2 linked regions of the Homo sapiens genome follow. The protein of the gene in region 1 binds, or shares a complex with, the protein of each later gene. Each region holds a gene or a part of one and is shown on either strand. Other genes may lie near its edges. The genes, in order: RNASEH2A and RNASEH2C. A codon is read from its position in the direction of its gene.

What was found.
Region 2: the proteins of RNASEH2A (region 1) and RNASEH2C are in contact, whole or in part, in a crystal structure (PDB 3PUF), measured with the Homo sapiens proteins. Residues at the interface, in NP_006388.2 of Homo sapiens: Thr11, Asn99, Ser102, Thr103, Leu106, Gly107, Arg108, Val109, Val196 (codon at 5,660), Glu197 (codon at 5,657), Lys198 (codon at 5,654), Leu199 (codon at 5,651), Glu225 (codon at 2,895), Pro226 (codon at 2,892), Val227 (codon at 2,889), Phe228 (codon at 2,886), Gly229 (codon at 2,883), Phe230 (codon at 2,880), Pro231 (codon at 2,877), Gln232 (codon at 2,874), Phe236 (codon at 2,862), Leu245 (codon at 2,835), Ala249 (codon at 2,823), Glu250 (codon at 2,820), Asp251 (codon at 2,817), Val252 (codon at 2,814), Ile253 (codon at 2,811), Trp254 (codon at 2,808), Glu255 (codon at 2,684), Asp256 (codon at 2,681); in NP_115569.2 of Homo sapiens: Pro33 (codon at 8,321), Cys34 (codon at 8,324), Glu35 (codon at 8,327), Val36 (codon at 8,330), Ala37 (codon at 8,333), Val38 (codon at 8,336), Ala42 (codon at 8,348), Pro43 (codon at 8,351), Val44 (codon at 8,354), Gly45 (codon at 8,357), Arg46 (codon at 8,360), Phe47 (codon at 8,363), Phe48 (codon at 8,366), Pro50 (codon at 8,372), Ala51 (codon at 8,375), Arg53 (codon at 8,381), Ser62 (codon at 8,577), Phe63 (codon at 8,580), Arg64 (codon at 8,583), Gly65 (codon at 8,586), Arg66 (codon at 8,589), Cys67 (codon at 8,592), Leu68 (codon at 8,595), Leu134 (codon at 8,870), Glu135 (codon at 8,873), Thr136 (codon at 8,876), Lys143 (codon at 8,897), Gly146 (codon at 8,906), Ala147 (codon at 8,909), Thr149 (codon at 8,915).

What each region holds. Positions count from the first base shown.
Region 1 is NC_000019.10:12,808,150-12,816,012, reverse strand, and holds the end of RNASEH2A (ribonuclease H2 subunit A), read right to left. Parts: intron 5,943-7,863; coding exon 5,805-5,942; intron 5,697-5,804; coding exon 5,609-5,696; intron 2,931-5,608; coding exon 2,807-2,930; intron 2,686-2,806; coding exon 2,547-2,685; 3' UTR 2,373-2,546; downstream 1-2,372. UniProt on the Homo sapiens protein: Catalytic subunit of RNase HII, an endonuclease that specifically degrades the RNA of RNA:DNA hybrids. Participates in DNA replication, possibly by mediating the removal of lagging-strand Okazaki fragment RNA primers during DNA replication.
Region 2 is NC_000011.10:65,717,576-65,728,982, reverse strand, and holds RNASEH2C (ribonuclease H2 subunit C), read left to right. Parts: upstream 1-8,184; 5' UTR 8,185-8,224; coding exon 8,225-8,396; intron 8,397-8,565; coding exon 8,566-8,741; intron 8,742-8,818; coding exon 8,819-8,938; intron 8,939-9,173; coding exon 9,174-9,200; 3' UTR 9,201-9,801; coding exon of another isoform or gene 9,802-9,936; 3' UTR 9,937-10,028; coding exon of another isoform or gene 10,029-10,110; 3' UTR 10,111-10,233; coding exon of another isoform or gene 10,234-10,393; 3' UTR 10,394-11,310; downstream 11,311-11,407. Other genes in the region: histone acetyltransferase KAT5, read right to left, coding at 9,802-9,936, 10,029-10,110, 10,234-10,393.

The sequences.
Region 1 (7,863 bases):
AATTGGCTGTGCGTGGTGGCATACTTGTAGTTCCACTTACTCACAGGGCTGAGGTGGGAGGACCCTGTGAGCCCAGGCATTCGAAGCTTCAATGAGCCAAGATCACATGGCAACACTTCGGTCTGGGTGACGGAGACCCTGTCTCAGAAAACAAAAACAGACTGGGCACAGTGGCTTACACTTATAATCCCAGCACATTGGGAGACCGAGGCAGGCGGGTCACTTGAGGTCAGGGGTTCAAGACCAGCCTGGCCAACATGGTGAAACCCTGTCACTATTAAAAATACAAAAACTAGCTGGGCATGGTGTAGTCCCAGCTGTTCGGGAGGCTGAGGTGGGAGAATTGCTTGAACCTGGGAAGTGGGGGTTGCAGTGACTTAAGACTGTGCCACTGCACTCCAGCCTGGGTGACAGAACGAGACTCTGTCTCAAAACAAAACAAAATAAAACCAACAAAAACAGAACCAAAGAAAGAAGGGAGAACATTTGAGAAGCTTCCATCCCAACCTGCCCCAAATCACTGGTGGGCTTATCTGTGCCTTCTAGGTCCTTCTGGAGAGAATGCAGCTTGTTCCAAACATTAATGCGCAGATATGCTTTTTTTTTTGAGACATGGTCTTGCTCTGTCGCCCATGCTGGAGCCTACCTCAACCTCCAGAAAAGCTGGGACTGCAGCCACACGGCACCCTGCCCGCCAAGATTTTTGTTTGGTTCGTGACCTTTCTTTATTTTTTCTTATCTTCCCCCATGCAGCCCAGCATTTTTTTTTTTTTTTTTTTTTTTTTGAGACAGAGTTTCGCTCTTGTTACCCTATGTTGTCCAGACTGGTCAAGATCCTCCTGACTCAGCCTTCCAAAGCACTAGGATTACATGTATGAGCCCCTGCGCCCAGCCACATCATGTATTTTACATATTAGTCAGCCAGGTATGGTAGCTCACACATTGAGAGGTCACAGCGGGCAGATCACTTGAACCCAGGACTACAAGACCAGCCTGGGCGACATGATGAAACCTCATCTCTACAAAAAATACAAAAATTAGTTGGGCATCGTGGCGTGTGCCTGGAACCTCAGCTACTCAGGAGGTTAAGGTGGGAGAATCACTTAAACCCAGGAGGCGGAGGTTACACTGAGCTGAGATCGCACCACTGCACTCCAGCCTGGGTGACAGAGTGAGATTCTGTCTCAAAAAATTTTTTAAATAAAAATAGGCAATGCATGGCGGCTCACGCCTGTAATCCCAGCACTTTGGGAGGCTGAAGCAGACGGATCACAAGGTCAGAAGATTGAGACCATCATGGCTAACACGGTGAAACCGTGTTTCTACTAAAAATACAAAAAATTAGCCAGGCCTGGTGGCACGCACCTGTAGTCCCAGCTACTCGGGAGGCTGAGGCAGGAGAATCATTTGAACCTGGGAGGCAGAGGTTACAGTGAGCTAAGATTGAGCCAATGCACTCCAGCCTGGGTGACAGAGCGAGACTCCATCTCAAGAAAGAAAATTTAAAAATTTTTAAAAATTAAAAATATAACTAAAAAGGTCGGTGCAGTGGCTCATGCCTGTAATCCCAGCACTTTGAGAGGCTGAGGTGGGCAGATCACCTGAGGTCAGGAGGTAGAGAGCAGCCTGACTAACATATAGTGAAACCTTGTCTCTACTAAAAAATACAAAAATTAGGCCAGGCGCAGTGGCTCACACCTGTAATCCCAGCACTTTGAGAGGCCAAGGCGGGCAGATTGCCTGAGGTCAGCAGTTTAAGACCAGTCTGGCCAACGTGGTGAAACCCCGTCTCTACTAAAAATACAAAAATTAGCTGAGTGTGGTGGCGCATGCCTGTAGTCACAGCTACGTGGGAGGCTGAGGCAGGAGAATCGCTTGAACCCAGGAGGCAGAGGTTGCAGTGAGCCAAAATTGCATCACTGCACTCCAGCCTGGTGACAAAGTGAGACTCTGTCTCAAATTAAAAAAAAAAGAAAGAAAGAAAAGAAAAGAAAATTAGCCGGGTGTGGTGGTGTGCACCTGTAATCCCAGCTACTCAGGAGGCTGAGGCAGGGGAATTGCTTGAACCAGGGAGGTGGAGGTTGCAGTGAGCCAAGATTGTGCCATGGTACTCCAGCCTGGGCAACAGGAGACTGTGTCTCAAAAAAAAAAAAAAATTAGTTGGGCATGGCACACGCCTATAGTCCCAGCTGCTTGGGAAATTGAGGCAGGAGAATCGCTTGAACCTGGAAGGCAGAGGTTGCAGTGAGCTGAGATTGCCCCATTCTACTCCAGCCTGGGTGACAGAGTGAGACTTCGTCTCTCAAAAAAATAAAATAAAATAAAATAAAATAAATAAAATTTAAAAATGAAAAAAATCAAACCAAATAAAATTAATCAACCAACACCCATTCTATTTAAGGTTCCAAAAGGAAGTAGCTGGACCCGGCTGCAGAGCACACTCCCACCTTGCTTCTGTCCCAAAAGTACATCCCCTACGTGTGGTTCTCCTTAAACAATTTTAATGTCTGGGTTGGGGAAGCAGGTAGAGCGCGTAGAGGCAGCTGCTAGAGGCTGGTTGCTGACTCCAGGCCGCGTTCCAGGAAATATCGGTGGGAAGAACGGGGACGGGCTTGGGACCCTTCATTGAGGAAGTAGGATGTGATCTTCCTGAGTCCCTCCTGATTCTCGGATGCTGAGTCCTCCCTGTGGGAGAGAGGTGATGACAGTGACCACTTACACAGGGAGCAACCCTCTCAGGCAGGGCTGAACGCTGGCCTCCCTCCTTCCTTCCCTATAGCACCCCCAGGACATCCATGACACCCACCATATAACATCTTCCGCCTCTTTCTCCAGGATGGTCTGGGCCGTGCGCCAGCTGAACCGGACAAACTGGGGGAAGCCGAACACAGGCTCCACGTGCTCCTTCAACCACGCTTTTGTCTTGGGATCTGGGGTAGGGTGGGCAATGGTGACAGTCCAAGTTGCACCATAACATTCAAGCTCCCTGCCACTCTTTTTTTTTTCTTTGAGATGGAGTCCCACTCTGTAGCCAGGCTGGAGTGCAGTGGCGCGATCTCAGCTCACTGCAACCTCCACCTCCCGGATTCAAGCGATTCTCCTGCCTCAGCCTCCCAAGTAGCTGGGACTACAGGCGCATGCCACCATGCCCAGCTAAATTTTGTGTTTTTAGTAGTGACGAGGTTTCACCATGTTGGCCAGGATGGTCTCAATTGCTTGACCTCGTGATCTACCCCCCTCGGCCTCCCAAAGTGCTGGGATTACAGGCATGAGCCACCACGCCCGGCCTCCTTGCCGCTCTTCTAAGGCTTCCTCCTGAGTACCTGGGGCACCTCCTATGGTCTGAAGCACCTTCTTGCCACAGGACCTTTACCTGGCCAAGAGCTGCTAAAAGGGCAGTGCAGGGAGACTGCCTCTGAGACATCTCCTTGACCTCCAAGAACAAGTCATTAAACATTTTTATTTTATTTACTTATTTTTTGAAATGGAGTCTTGCTCTGTCACCCAGGCTGTAGTGCAATGGTGCGATCTCGGCTCACTGCAACCTCCGCCTCCCAGGTTCAAGCGATTCTCCTGCCTCAGCCTCCCAAGTAGCTGGGACTACAGCCACCCACCACCATACCTGGCTAATTTTTGTATTTTTAGTAGAGACGGGGTTTCACCATATTGGACAGGCAGGCTGGTCTCAAACTCCTGACCTCAGGTGATCCACCCACCTCAGCCTCCCAAAGTGCTGGGATTACAGGTGTAAACACCACACCCAGCCTTTTTATTTTTTTGAGATAGGGTCTCGCTCTATTACCCAGGCTGGAGTGCAGTGACATTATCACAGCTCAATGCAACCTCTGCCTCCCAGGCTCAAGCCATCCTCTCACCTCAGCCTCCCAAGTAGCTGGGACTACAGGTGCGCACCACCACACCTAATTTTTGTATTTTTTGTAGAGATGGGGTCTTGTCATATTGCCCAGGCTGGTTGTGAATTCCTGAGTTCACATGATCTACCTGCCTCTGTCTCTTAAAATGCTAGGATTACGGGCATGAGCCACCTGGCCCAGCCTGTCATTAAATATTATTATTATTATTATTATTATTATTTTGAGATGGAATTTTGCTCATTTCCCAGGCTGGAGTGCAATTATGCGATCTCGGCTCACTGCAACCTCCACCTCCCAGGTTTAAGTAATTCTCCTGCCTCAGCCTCCCGAGTTGCTGGGATTACGGGCGTGTGCCACCACGTCCAGCTAATTTTGTATTTTTAGTAGAGATGGGGTTTCACCACGTTGGTCAGGCTGGTCTAGAACTCCTGACCTCAAAGGATCCACCTGCCTCAGCCTCCCAAAGTCCTGGGATTACAGGTGTGAGCCACCACGCCTGGCTAACATTATTTTTTTTTTTGACACAAGATCTCATCTTGTCACCAAGGCTGGAGTGCAGTGGCATAATCATAGCTCACTGCAGCCTCCAACTCCTGGGCTCAAGCAACCCACCCACCTTAGCCTCCTCCTCCAGAGTAGCTGGGACTACAGGTGGGCACCACTATAACCGGCTAATTTTTTAAATTTTTTATAGAGATGGGGGTCTCGCTATGTTGCCCAGGCTGGTCTTGAACTCGAGGACTCAAGCGGTTCTCCTACCTCAGCTTCCCAAAGTGCTGGGATTACAGGCATGAGCCACCACGCCTGGTCCCCTTCCCCTTAACAAAGGGACAAATGCCCACCTTGGGTCTCAGTCCATCACTGGGGCTCCAGAAAGACAGCAAAGTGGGAAGCGGGGAAGACAGCAGCAATCCTATGGCCTGGAATTCAGCTCTATCACTCACTGGCTGTGTGGCCATAAACAAATGGCACCACTGTCTAACACTTGGCCTCTTTCACTGTGGAGTAGGGTGACCAGAGCAATTTAGAAAACCTCCAGCCAGGCACAGTAGTTCACACCTGTAATCCTAGCTATTTGGGAGTCCAAGGCAGGAGGATCACTTAAGCCCAGGAATTCAAGACCAGGCTGGGCAACATAGGGAGACCCCATCTCTTTAAAAAAAGAAGAAAAAAAGGGCCAGGGGTGGTGGCTCATGGCTGTAATCCCAGCACTTTGAAAGACCAAGGTGGGAGGACTGCTTGACTCCAGGAATTTGAGACCAGCCTGGGCAACATGACAAGACCCCATCTCTATAAAAACAAAAAATAGGCTGGGCACGGTGGCTCATGCCTGTAATCCCAGCACTTTGGGAGGCTGAGCCAGGCAGATCACCTGAGGTCAGGAGTTCAAGACCAGCCTGACCAACATGGAGAAAACTAGTCTCTACTAAAAACACAAAATTAGCTGGGTGTGGTGGCACATGCCTGTAATCCCAGCTACTCGCGAGGCTGAGGCAGGAGAATCGCTTGAAGCCAGGAGGTGGAGGTTGCGGTGAGCCGAGATCGCACCATTACACTCCAGCCTGGGCAAAAAGAGCGAAACTCCGTCTCAAAAAATAAACAAAAATAACAAATAAAAACAAAAAATAAGCAAAATAAAATGATAAATGACAGAAAGGAAAAAAAGAAAACCTCAGAAGTGTGCTCAGCCCTGGCCATTTCAACATTAGTACCATGGTCACGTGTCTGCTCACCATTGGGGTAGCCTGAGCCATAATCAGTATCCAAGTCCTGCAGTTTCTCCACGAACTGCCATTTCTTCACGGCCTGGTCCCGGGCCACCTGTGGGCAAAACAGGCACCTGGAATCTCCCTCCTTCCCTTTGGTGGCCATGCCTGGCCCCTATATAGTGGGATGGTGGAAGCCAGCCATGGCTAGTAGGGTACTGACCTTGGCACAGATGCTGGCAGCACTAACCACCGGGTAGAGGGCATCTGCTTTGGCCTTGACCGTCACCTCAATCCCGGGAAAACTTTGCTGCAGCCGCGCCTGGTATGTCTCTGGCATCCCTACGGTGTCCACGAATACCTGCCACAGCAACAGACACATATTAATTGAACAAACAACTGTACCAATGCTCTAGCCTCACAGCCCTGGCACGTTCTTCCTGCTACCCAGAATCCTCTTCTCCAGCACGTCCCCAGGATGGATCAATCAGGGATTTCAACTCGAACATCTCCTCCTAGACCAGGCAAAGTTGTTCAGGCCTGTGATCCCAGCACTTTGGGAGGCTGAGGCGGGAGGATCGCTTGATCCTGGGAGTTTGAGGCCAGGCTTGGCAACACAGTGAGACCCCATCTTTATAAAAACATAAAATAAATACAATAAAATAAAGAAAAAACTCACCTCCTGAAGAGGCTTTCTCTATCACGCTGCTTTTACTCTAACTTATTTAGCACCTACTGCATGCCACATACTGTTCTAGGAACTGAGGTGGCAGAAAACACTAGAAAAAAATTGGTAGAGTGCGTTAGCACAAGCCTGTAATCCCAACACTTTAGGAAGCCGAAGTGGGAGGATCGCTTGAGGGCAGGTGGTTGAGACCAACCTGGGCAACATATGGAGACCCTGTTTCTACAAAAAATAAAAAGTTAGCTAGGTGTAGTGGTGAATAAAGGCTTGAAGGAGGTGAGGAAGTGAACTGTGCAGAGATCTGGGGAAGAGGGCTCTAGGTGTGAGAACAGCCAGTACAAAGGCCCTGAGCTGGGACCAGGTTCATGATGCTGGGCCCATGCATGGGGGCCTTTGGCTGCAGCACCGAAGAGAGGGTCCAAGAGCTGCTGGGGGAAAGTGGTATCTCCACAGCACTACTGTTTTCAGAAACAACCTTTATTTTTTGTTTACCAGCTGACCATCTTTCATGTTTTATTTTTTTATTTTTTATTTTTAGTAGAGATGGGGTTTCACCATGTTGGTCAGGCTGGTCTCGAACTCCTGACCTGATGATCCGCCCGCCTCGGCCTCCCAAAGTGCTGGGATTACAGGCGTGAGCTACTGCGCCCAACCTCCAGCTGACCATCTTTCTGCCCAGGCTAGGCCCTGAACGCCTACGGGTAGGGCCCTTGTCTGTCTACACCAGTTACTGTATCGCCAGCTCTGCATTTGGGCCTGGTCCTCAGGTCCCTCCTCAGCAGGGTCTACCTTGCTATAATTCCTTTCTTTCTTCTTCTTTTTGTGGAGATGGAGTCTCGCTATGTTGCCCAGGCTGGTCTGGAACTCCTAGCCTCAACCAATTTGCTCACCTCAGCTTCCCAAAGTGCTGGGATTACAGGCGTGAGCCACCATACCCAGCATACAATTCCTACGTCAAGGTTATTTTGCCTTGTTATTCTCTCAGAACGGTCCATTCTTTCATTGAGAGCATTCGAGGCAATGCTGATTTATGTTTTTCTCTGGTAATTTAATGTAATTCTGCCCCACTCGACTGTGAATTTTCCTGATTTAATTTCCACTGTGATCGGAAAACTAAATGTCGAGATGTGCATTTCAAAAAGACTACCTTCTGTTGCTGCTTGGGGAACAGATTGGAGGGGATAGGAGGGTGAGGGACGAGAGACGACACTCAGCAGGTGTCCAGGGAGTGGGGGGTGTCCTGGGCTAGGACAGAGGTGACAGGTAGACAATGTAGGATTTGTTCTGGAGACTGAGCCTTTAGGATGAGGGAGAGATTAGATGGAGACGGGACTAGGGGCTACACTGTGGTCGTCAGTGTGGCACACATTTAGGGCAGAAACAGGAGCACGAAATCAACAGTAGCAATGAATATGCCCGAGGCACTCCAGACGTATCTGATGCTGAATCTGCACACTGCACATTTTTGCCCACATTTATTTTTTATTTTATTTTTATTTTTATTTTTCGCTCTGTCCCCCAGGCTGGAGTGCAATGGCGCGATCTCACCTCACTGCAACCTCCGCCTCCCGGGTTCGAGCAATTCTTCTGCCTCGGC
Region 2 (11,407 bases), on another chromosome or scaffold:
GAATCCCTGAATTCCTTTTAATGCCTGACCTGTGTTGGTGGCTAATGATTCCAGGGTTTGAGTCAGTTCTTTAGGGCCAACTCATGGTAGGCAAAGCCACCCCAGGGGGCCACTAGTTCTAATGCCACTCCAGTTCATGTCAGAATTAATCCTATTGATCATTCATTTCTGGTATTCCTCGGTCTTACAGGGTTTTATATGGTGACCCCCGGAAGGCCAAAGGGTGGCCAACATACACTCACCCCTGTTCCAAGTTTTTGATATACAAAGGAAAGCTACTCCTAAAAGAACAGGAGGTCCTCTGGGGAGTTAGGAGTGGTTATGGGATGTGACTTCTTCCCACTTATGACCACAAATGAAAACGAACCCATTTGGGGTGCAATAGAGGCCCTGTGAGGTGTGATGCCTATCTTTAGCCACTAAGTTGGGTCTGTGGAGATACAAGATATCTCCCCCCATTCCAACGGGGAGGACCAAACAACCCTGGTAGGGTTTTCTGGGTTTTGTTTGTTTTTTGCTTTTTGACAGTTGACAGAGCTAGCTGAGGCTTTATCTTGAAAAAACAAAACAAAACAAAACAAAACAGTGGAATTGTTTTGTGATGGAGGCATGGGCAAGGGAGTTACCCCACACAAGTGGGCTGTGGAGGAGGGCTGAGCCTCAAGTGGGTCTCCTGTTCCCTGCGCTTTCCTGCACAGCAGCCTCCCCCACAAGCTCTGGGGCAGCTGCAAGAGGGGGTAGGCTGGGAGGGACTGCCATAGTTGTTCGCTTGGGCAGGACATCAGAGGACTCGGACACCAGCTTCCCAACCATGGTCCTGGAGGAGCTGGTGCGGCTGAAGGAGCTGAAATCCCTGCCAGAGTCAAGGCTGGGGCCCAGGCCGTAGCTGAGGCCAGGGCTTGTGAGGCCCCGGGAGGCCGAGCTCAGCTGTCTACTTAAGCAGCTGCGGCGCCAGGTCCTGCTTGGCCGGCGCCAGGTCCTGCTTGGCCTGCTACAGGGCAGCCTCCAGCTCCACCAGCTCCCCACGCTGCTCAGCATCCGCGATGGCCTCTGAGGCCCTCAATCTCAGCATGGACCCCGCTGATGTTGCGGATCATCTCAGAGTTCTCCATCTTCCCGCGACGCAGGTCATCCCCGTGCTTCCCAGCCAGTGTCTGCAACTCCTCATCCTTGACCTGGTGCAGACTCTTAGCCTTGCCTGGCCGCAGTGGGCGATCTCCTCGTACTGGGCGTTGACCTCCGCGATGATGCCATCCACGTCCAGGGAGTGGCTGTTGTCCATGGACAGCACACAGACGTGTCCGAGATCTGGGACTGCAGCTTCCAGATCTCCTCTTCACACAGCTCTCTGGGGAAGTTGATCTTGTCAGTCAGCCCTTCCAGGTGAGACTCCAGCACTGCCTTGTTCATGTAAGCTCCATCCACATCCTTCTCGATGAAGGCAAATTCATTCCCCATCTCTGTCCGCTCGTTGATCTCATCCTGGTACTTATCGTTGAAGTCTTCCAGCAGCCCCTGCGTGTTGCCAAGATCTGCCTCCACCTTCAGCTTCTCCTGGCCCAGTGTCCAGCTGCTGCCCAAGGCTGTGGATGTGGCTCTCAAACACGCTGTCCATGTTGCTCCCAGCTGTCTTCTGCTGCTGCAGGATGCTCCACTTAGTCTCCAGCATTTGTTCTGCTGCTCCAGGAACTGCACCTTGTCGATGAAGGAGGCAAACTTGTTGAGGGTCTTGATCTGCTCCTTCTCCTGGGTATGCACAGCCTGGATATTGGGGTCCAGGTCCAGCTTAAGGGGGCTCAGCAGACTCTGGTTCACCATGATGGCTGTGTCGCCCACCCCCACCCCATACCACTGCCCCACCATAGCCACCACCCAGACTCATGCTGGTGCCTAGGCCACTCCAGAAGCTGCTGCTGCTGCCCACTTGGGAGAAGCTCAAGGAGCTGATGTGGGCACCGGGACCACTGGTGTAGGAGCGGCTGCTGAAGGCCCAGGGGCCAGAGATGGATGCCTTGTAGGGCTTCTGGGTCACCGTGATGGACACGATGGAGGCAGGAGTGGAGGTAGGCAGGCCGAACCAGATGTAGATTCAAGGATGGAGAAGCTTCCTCTAGGTCAGCCCTTGTTTTCCAGAAGGGGGCGGTAATCTCACCTTCCCAGATTAGGCAGTTGTTTTTTTCTCTGTATGTTCTGCTCTGGGAGAAGGCACTGTATATGGTCTCCTTGCTCACAAGTGGAATCTTATTTATCTTGCTGTGGCCTTGGGAACTTGGCAACTACAGTTGGGTCACAGCATTGTGGGGAAACTTCCACTTTTGTGTCATTAACACAACAGTGGTTGCAAAAGATAGAATCATTAGTGCCCTGGAGATCTAGATACACGCCTTGACAGAATCATGAGTGCCCTAGAGATCTAGATACATGCCTTGATAGAATCATGAGTGCCCTGGAGATCTAGACATACGCCTTCCCAGGTCCAGGCAATAGTGGTGGGGGATTTCAGGTAGAATCCATCAAGTGCACGACAGAAATTTCCACCTAATGGTCGGGGTCTGGGTACTTTGAGATTGCTATGGATGGTGAAGAGGGCTAGGGAGTTAGCCAAGAGAGTTTTTGGATCGGCCAGAAGGTGAAATTCTCTATCCTGGGGATGTTGATGACAAATCCAGCAACCATGAAGATGATTTCCTAAAGCTATAATTTTTGAAATATTTACTATAAAGTTTTGTTCCCACTTACACAGGATTAGGTTAATTGGGAGAGCAACAGGATTAACAGTGGCACATGGTATCCACCTGGGCCTTAGAGTGGCCTCTACACCCAACAAGGACAAGAGATGTTTCCTGGGAGGAGGTAGTTGCCCAAAGCGACAGAAAAGAAGTATTACAATCAGGAAGAAGAGAAAAATGTTCCCACCCACGGCGTCACGTTACCACTTATGGCTGAATATTGATTCTTTTAAATAGGTAGCAGAGGTCCTCCAAAGGTTCACAGATGTAGGTCGTGGTATCCTGCTTTTGTGCCTGTGACTCATAAGAAACAGGTTTAATCCTAGACAGGTGTACCCAACAAGTTATTCCCTGAAGTTTAGCAGCAGAGGGGATACTCAACAACACCTGATAGGGGCTCTGTCATTTCGGTTGTAATTGATCCTCAGGGGAATCTTTCTTTCCAAGTTTTTATTAAGACTAAGCCTCCTGGCCGGGCGCGGTGGCTCACGCCTGTAATCCCAGCACTTTGGGAGGCCAAGGCGGGCGGATCACGAGGTCAGGAGATCGAGACCATCCTGGCGAACACGGTGAAACCCCGTCTCTACTAAACACACAAAGAATTAGCCGGGCGTGGTGGCGGGCGCCTGTAGTCCCAGCTACTCGGGAGGCTGAGGCAGGAGAATTGCTTGAACCTGGGAGGCAGAGGTTGCAGTGAGCCGAGATCTCACCATTGCACTCCAACCTGGCTGACAGAGTGAGACTGCGTCTCAAAAATAAATAAATAAATATAAAAAAATCAGCCGGGCATGGTGGTGGGCGCCTGTAATCCCAGCTACTCGGGAGGCTGAGGCAGGAGAATCAGGAGAATTGCTTGAGCCCAGGAGACGGAGGTTGCAGTGAGCCGAGATTGTGCCACTGCACTCCAGCCTGGCTGACAGAGCGGACTCTGTCTCAAAAAAAAAAAAAAAAAAAAGGAGAGGAAAAAAATGCGTATTTCCTAGCTTTGTCCACTGGAAATATCTAGAAACAAAGGCTAACTCAGTAGCAATGAATACATCTAGTATCAGATTGGATTACTAAATATCATTTCCCACTGAAGGGAACCAGCGATCTTTGGAGAGATGTATAATTCCAAGTCTGGGGCAGGAAATGTACAAGATGAGCCAGGAACATCTTGTGGTACTGGAAAACAAAGATATGTATAAAAGATCACTAGGGTCATATCGAAAGATTCAGGAGATAACTTGAAGAGGCTTCCACTGGCAGAAGATGGGGAAATTTGCACCTCAGTAAGAATAATAACCACAATTATGTGAAACATAAAAGTGTTAATCCATTATTTATTATTTTTATTTATATTTATTTATTTAATATTTATTTAACATTTTTAAAAGGTCACCATTGGAATATGCTAGGGCAACAAATCATTATTTTAAGAACTGGAAAATAAAAGGATTTTTTTGAGATGCAGTCTCGCTCTGTCACCCAGGCTGGAGTGCAGTGGCTCGATCTCAGTTCACTGCAACCTCCACCTCCCGGGTTCAAGCAGTTCTCCTGCCTCAGCCTCCTGAGTAGCTGGGATTACAGGCATGCGCCACCACGCCCGGCTAATTTTTGTATTTTTTAGTAGAGATAAGGTTTCACCGTGTTGGCCAGGCTGGTCCCGAACTCCTGACCTCAAGTGATCCACCCACCTCAGCTTCCCAAAGTGCTGGGATTACAGGTGTGAGCCACTGTGCCCGGCCTAATTATTTTGTCTTTCTTATCCTCACTGTACCAACAGGCAATCAAATGGCTGATGGGGAGAGTTTTTCTTTATAGACCTATTTCAGCTAGTAAATGAAGAAGAAATGAGAGGACTTAGAATATCAGTTTTAGGCTGGGCACCATGCCTCACGCCTGTGATCCCAGCACTTTGGGAGCCCAAGGGAGGGGAGCAGATCACTTGAGGTAAGGATTTGGAGACCAGCCTGGCCAACATGGTAAAACCCCATCTCTACTAAAAATACAAAAATTAGCCTGGCATGGTGGCATGCGCCTGTAATCCCAGCTACTCAGGAGGCCAAGGCAGGAGAATTGCTTGAACCCGGGAGACAGAGGTTGAGCTGAGTGAGCCAAGATCGCGCCACCGCGCTCCAGCCTGGGCTACCAGGTGAGACTCTGTCCCAAAAATATGTGTGTGTGTGTGTGTGTGTGCGCGTACACACGCGTTTTAACCTCTAATGAATTAAAGGATCTAGGCAATGATCATCTATGGCTGCTAACCTCACAAAAAGAGGGAAAAACACAAAACCACCCATGAAGTAGTCTTGCCCTCTCCCCTCCCCAAAGAATCGAATTAAGCTTCTAGATGTAATTACAGAAAATACAGGTATAGATTACCTTGACACTATAGGAATGCAATTACTAATATCCAGACTACAGGAAACTTGCAAAACCAAAAACATAAAAATAAAAAATAAGATCCAACATCTACTCCCAATTTTTAAAAGCTCTTAGTAGTACAGCTTTAATGAGACATATATAACAAGTCAAAAGGCAGTTTCATGATTATTGGTGAAACAGCAGAAGCACTCCCGTGAAAGTTTCAGGAAAAAGACAATGTTGTCCTCTGATACCAGTAACATTTGAGAGACTGTTCTGCAAGTACTGGCCAAGGCAATTAGAAAAGAAAACAAATTACAAGGTGTAATGAAAAAAAAAAAACAAAAAACAAAAAACAAAAAGAAGATGTAATGGTGAGGTAAAAATTATTATTTGAAAGAGAGGTGACTAATTCTGGGGATCTTAAAATAAAATAAAAATCATTAGGAACAAAATAATTCAGTCGATATCTAGTTTAAAAATGGACATATAAAAATCAACAGGTTTGCTATAGACAAGGGGTCTGAAAACTATGGCCTGTGGTTCAAATCCAACCCCTTGTCTGTTTCTGCAAAGATTTACTGGAACACAACAACGCTCATTCATTTATGTATTGTCTATGACTGCTTTCATGCTATAACGGTGAAGTTGAGTAGCTGCGACAGAAGCCATAAAGTCCACAAAACCTAAAATATTTACTATTTGACCCCTTACAGAAAAAGTTTGCCAACCCCTGCTATAGATTAAAAAGAAAATCAGTTAGAAAATAAAATGAAAAAAATAAAAGCCCCAATTTTGGTTTTTAGAGAAAGGGTCTCCCTCCGTAACCCAGGCTGGTGTGCAGTGGTGCAATCGTGACTCGAACGGCAGCCTCAAACTCCTTGGCTTAAGTGATCTTCCCACCTTAGCTTCTTGAGTAGCTGGGACTACAGGCACATGCCACTGTGCCCCACTCATGTTTAAAAAAATTTTTTTCTTTGTAGGAACGGAGTCTTGCTATGTTTCCCAGGCCGGTCTCAAACTCCTGGCTTCAAGCAATCCTCCCCCATCTTGGCCTCCTAAAGCACTGGAATTACAGGTGTGAATCATCATGCCCAGCCCCTCAGTTCTTAATAGAAACAATTATTAATATAAGCTAAGAAGAAATAAACTTTACAATATGTATTAATAGCTATTATATATGAACAAAACCTCACAACTGTACAGATATCCAAGGAGATGTGAATAAATTGAATTATGTCTTTCCTGATAGAAAACTAAAGCAAGCCTTTTTCTAAATTAATCTGCCACTCTAGTGAAAGAGCACCAGGAATACATCTGCAGTTGAACAAATTGGGTATATTACTCCTGCACTCTGGGGAATTTCAATAAGAGGGTGCTAGAAAGGACTTATAGGAGGATTTGTGCCCATGTTCAGTGATTTCAGTCAGGGTTTAGGGAAGCCAGGCTTCTCTCTGGCTTGGATGCTGTCAGAGGTGGGGGTATGTCTATGACGGACTATCTTAATGAGTCTTGCCCAGAAGGAGAGAAGATTAGTTGGAGGCTAATGCTGTAATTGGTAAGGAAACAACAGTCACTCTCTTATGGGAGAAAGAGGGATGTTTCATGCCTTTTGTGGTTTGGACAGTGTTCACCTTTGCCAGCATTCAGATGTGACGATGGAGTGGTTCTGTTTCTGTCTTGCTCCCTCACGGTCACAGAGTGACCTTGTCCGATGCTGATGTTCTCTGAAATTGTTTATATTCAACAGAATACCAAGGCCAGCTCCCAGATGTGCAGGGATGTATAAATTAAACGCAATTTAAATCTAAATTTCCAGTTTTGTGTTTGTTTTATGTGAGAACTTGAAAAAATATATCTAAGTTGGGTGTCTGAACAAATAAACATTAGAGAAGAGCTGAGAAACCAAAGAGAGAAAATTGTGAAATCTAAAAGACTGAAAAGTGTTGATAAATTTGACTACAAAAAATTAGTCTTTGTCCTGGGTGCAGTGGCTCACGCCTGTAATTCCAGCGTGATTTGGGAGGCCAAGGTGGGCAGATCACTTGAGTCCAGGAGTTCAAGACCAGCCTGGGCAACATGGCAAAACTCCACCTCTACCAAAAATACAAAAATTAGCTGCGTGGTGGCGCAGGCCTGTGGTTCCAGCTACACAGGAAGCTGAGGATGGGGGATGGATTAAGCCTGGGAGGTCGAGGCTGCAGTGAGCCAATCAAACCACTGCACTCCAGCCTAGGCGAGTGAGACCTTGTCTAAAAGACCAAACAACCACAAAAATAAGTCCTTGTCCAGCAAAAATCACCTTTACACAGGTTTGCAAGACAGACCACAGATAAAACATTTTCAATGCATTTAAGAAAAGGGTTGATGTCCCTAATAAACTAAAAATGAATAACCTACCTACTAATCAATATAAAAAGAGTACTTTTCAGAATCGTTTTAGATTTTTACAACGACATGTGCCATTAAAAACAATAAAAGAAAAAAACCCGGCTGGGGGCGGTGTCTCACGCCTGTAATCCAAGTACTTCAGAAGGCCGAGGCTGGAGGATCGCCTGAGGTCAGGAGTTCGAGACCAGCCTGGCCAACATGGCGAAACCCAGTCTCTACTAAAAATACAAAAATTAGGTGGGCATGGTGGTGTGCGCCTGTAATCCCAGCTACTCCGGAGGCTGAGGCAGGAGAATCGCTTGAACCCGGGAGGCGGAGGTTGCAGTGAGCTGAGACCGTGCCTGGCACTCCAGCCTGGGCGACAAAACGAGACTCTGTCAAAAAAAAATAATAATAAATAAGAAAAAGAAAGAAAGAGGGAAGGACGGGAAGGAAGGGAAGGGAAGGGGGGAAGGAAGGGAGGCAGGGAGGAGGGGGAGGGGGGAGGGGGAAGGAGGGGGGAGGGGGAAGGAGAGGGGGAGAGGGGAGGGAGGAAAGAGGGGAGGGGGGAAGGAAGGAAGGAAAAAAACAAAACACAACTGGAAAACCCTAGGACTTGAACCCAGGGAAAGCGTTAGGGGGTAAGGGGACTACACTTCCCGTGAAGCTCCGCGGCGGCTTCCCGTGAGGCCCCGCGGAGGCTTCCTGAGAGGTCCTGCGCGCTTTCCGCGCCAGCTTCAGTGTCAGCTCGCGAGCCCTGGCGTCGCGTAGGAGGGAGGATGGAGAGCGGCGACGAAGCGGCCATCGAGAGGCACCGCGTCCACTTGCGCTCCGCCACATTGCGCGACGCCGTACCCGCCACACTGCATCTGCTGCCCTGCGAGGTTGCGGTGGACGGGCCCGCCCCGGTGGGGCGCTTCTTCACGCCCGCCATCCGCCAGGGCCCCGAGGGTGAGCCCTGCGGCCGGACTACGGCTCCCGGCAGCCCCCGCGCCGGCCTGCGCGCTTCTCATCGCCTGGGCTCCTGGGGATCGTGGTCCGTCCGGAGGTGGCGGGAGGGCAGCTCCGGGCTCGACCCAGCGTGGGTCCTGCCTGAGGCCCTTTGCGCCTCCCGCTCCAGGACTCGAAGTGTCGTTTCGGGGCCGCTGTCTACGGGGAGAGGAGGTGGCGGTGCCGCCTGGCCTCGTGGGATACGTGATGGTGACAGAAGAGAAGAAGGTGTCGATGGGGAAGCCAGACCCCTTGCGGGATTCCGGGACTGACGACCAAGAGGAGGAGCCGCTGGAGCGGGACTTCGTGAGCAAAGGGATAGGGTTGAAAGGGGGTGCGGGCGGGAGCTGTAGTCCCGATGCTGAGCCAGGCCCCTTCCCCAGGACCGCTTCATTGGAGCCACTGCCAACTTCAGCCGCTTCACCCTGTGGGGTCTGGAGACCATCCCTGGCCCGGATGCCAAAGTGCGTGGGGCCTTAACTTGGCCCAGCCTTGCGGCAGCGGTGAGTAGACGAGGAGTTCCGTCTTGCCCCCGGGTGGATGGGCTGGGGAGCACAATTGCGCAGACGGAGCCTGGAGGATTCTACTGGGTAGTGTGTGGGAAGCGTAGCTCCCTGACCACTCTTCCTAGCATGTCTAGAAGCGGTTATTCTGAACAGCTGGGTCCTTCCTCGGGTATGGGGGCCAGCTTGCCGCCCTGTCTTACAAGTCCAACAGTAGAGGCGACTCCTGTTGCAGATTCACGCACAGGTGCCCGAGGACTGAGAACCAGAGCTTGAAATTCAAAGCTGCGATCCCTTCACAGCAGTAAACCAGCTCTTTGGAACCGATTCCATCACCCCAATAAAGGAGCTCTTCACAGCACCTGTGAGTCTGGGCGCCTTAGAGCCCCTAAGCCAGCATGGGCCCTTTCCCCCTCCCCACCAAGAACTTTGCATGGCTCTGGCATATAGAAACAATTTATTGCCGGGGGCAATAGGGGTAAGAGAAGCCAGAAATTTTTGCAGCCAGCACCCACCCCACCCCCAACTTCTACTTTACAAAAGAAATTTTTACAATCACCAGCCCTCTGTACAGAGCTCCCCCATCCGGATCCCTTCTCACTGTACACAGCTGCCTGGCTCCCTCTGGTCCCTGCTTCAGAGGAGGCCTGGGCCTGTGGCCAGCTGACCTTGGAGTTGGTCTGAGCCCGGAGCTCGCCTTGGTGCTGGGCACCAGTGGGCCCCTGCCAGGCCTGTCCTCTCCTTTTTGAGCTGTCCTCAGCCCCATCTCCCTTAGAGTGCTTTGTGGGAGCTGCAGTGGGGGCGGGGTGGGCTATCAGCCCCAGTCCTGCTGCCGTCTTGGCACTGCAGTGGGCAGTGTCTGGTCACCACTTCCCCCTCTTGCTCCAGTCCTTGGGAGTGAAGTGCAGACACTTGGAGTCGATCCGCAGGAGCCGCTTGAGCATGGCCCGCTCATGGCCATCCACGATGTCCTCTGACAGTGTGAGGATGTACTGGCCCTGGGCAGAGGAGATGGGTTCAGCAGGTGGTCAGCCCACAGAGGACTGCACTCTGCATCCCACACACCTGTCTCCCCTGCCTGCCTCCCTACCTTGTAGTAGTTGATGAGATTGAGGTACTGCAGAGTGGAGATGACATCCTCCTTCTTGATGCTGGTGATTTCACTAATCTCACTGTGGGAGAGCACAGGTCAGGTTCCCTGAGGACCTTTATCTGTCCCCAGGAGCCCTGAGAGAGAAAGCCCAGGAACAGACAAGCCATGCCATGTACCCCCAGGTAGACAGCGCCAGGCTCACTTGATGGTGATCTGTGGCCTCTCCCCGCTCTCCGACTTCAGCCCCATCAGGATCTCCAGGATGGTCTGGGACCAGTAGCTTCGATAGGATAGGAGGCCAAGGTCTGAGAGGGGCTTCTCAGGGGTCCCTGTTTTCCCTTCCACTTTGGAGAGTTCATAGCCTAAAGCAATGGAGCAGGAGAGGGTGAGTAAGAGGTCACAGATGAACATAAGCAACATTTAAAAACACAGGTTGCCAAGGCAGGCTGCCTAGTTCCTATCATGGCCCTGCCACTTGGCAGTTCTATGCCCTCCACTTCTCTGTGCCTCAGTTCCCTCAGGAAGAACTGAGTATTCACTCTTTCCGTGCGCTGAGCACAGTGGAGGGCATGAGGGCACTGAGAGGAGCAGCTGCAGTCAACCATGAGGGTGATCAGAGGCCAGTGAAGGCTTATGGGCAGGGGATGCAGAGAAAATGGCTCATGGGAAGAAGGGGCCTCCAATTTTCCTTTGCCATCCCGGGCTCTGTGTCTAGCCATGTAAGGAAGTGGAGACAGATTCCTGTCTCTAATCCAGACCTGAGAATGCTTGAATTCTCAAAGTCCTCCTAGCTGGGACCTTGGGAGTGTCACCTGCTGTAAGACTTGAGTGGCCTGACTGGGTGGTTGTGAGGATGCAAGGAGAAAAGGTGCACCAAGGTGCTTCCTAAGTCGGGGAGACCATTCCTGGGAGCCACGTGACTGACCCCCACCATGGCTCTTTCCCTCCAACTCGTGCTGATAGCTGGCCGCTGGGAGGCCGTCCCCAGTGAGATCCTCAGACCCTGCACAGCCCTGAGTGGCTTCACATCTCTTGGTCAGTGTCTTCATTCTCCCCAGTCAGGGACCTGGGATGTTTGTTACTTCTAGAAGCCCTTCCTCACCCTCATAATGGACCTTAGCCCCTTGCTGGTCCCACTCACATCCCGTCTCCATTGCTGTCTGAGTTCCAAGACTGAGTTTCTTCAAGCATCCACTTGTGCTACCAGGCTGAGAAGTTCTGAGGATGTGACCCCATCTGGGCATCATTTAACCAATAAAATTTCTCGAATGGACCATAACCTTGATCAGGTAAAGCCTCTGTGTCTTCACCAGGTCAACAGCTAGAACTTCCTCCTTGTTTCTCAGGTCAGAGCTTGGTTATTCCAAGTGAGTGGT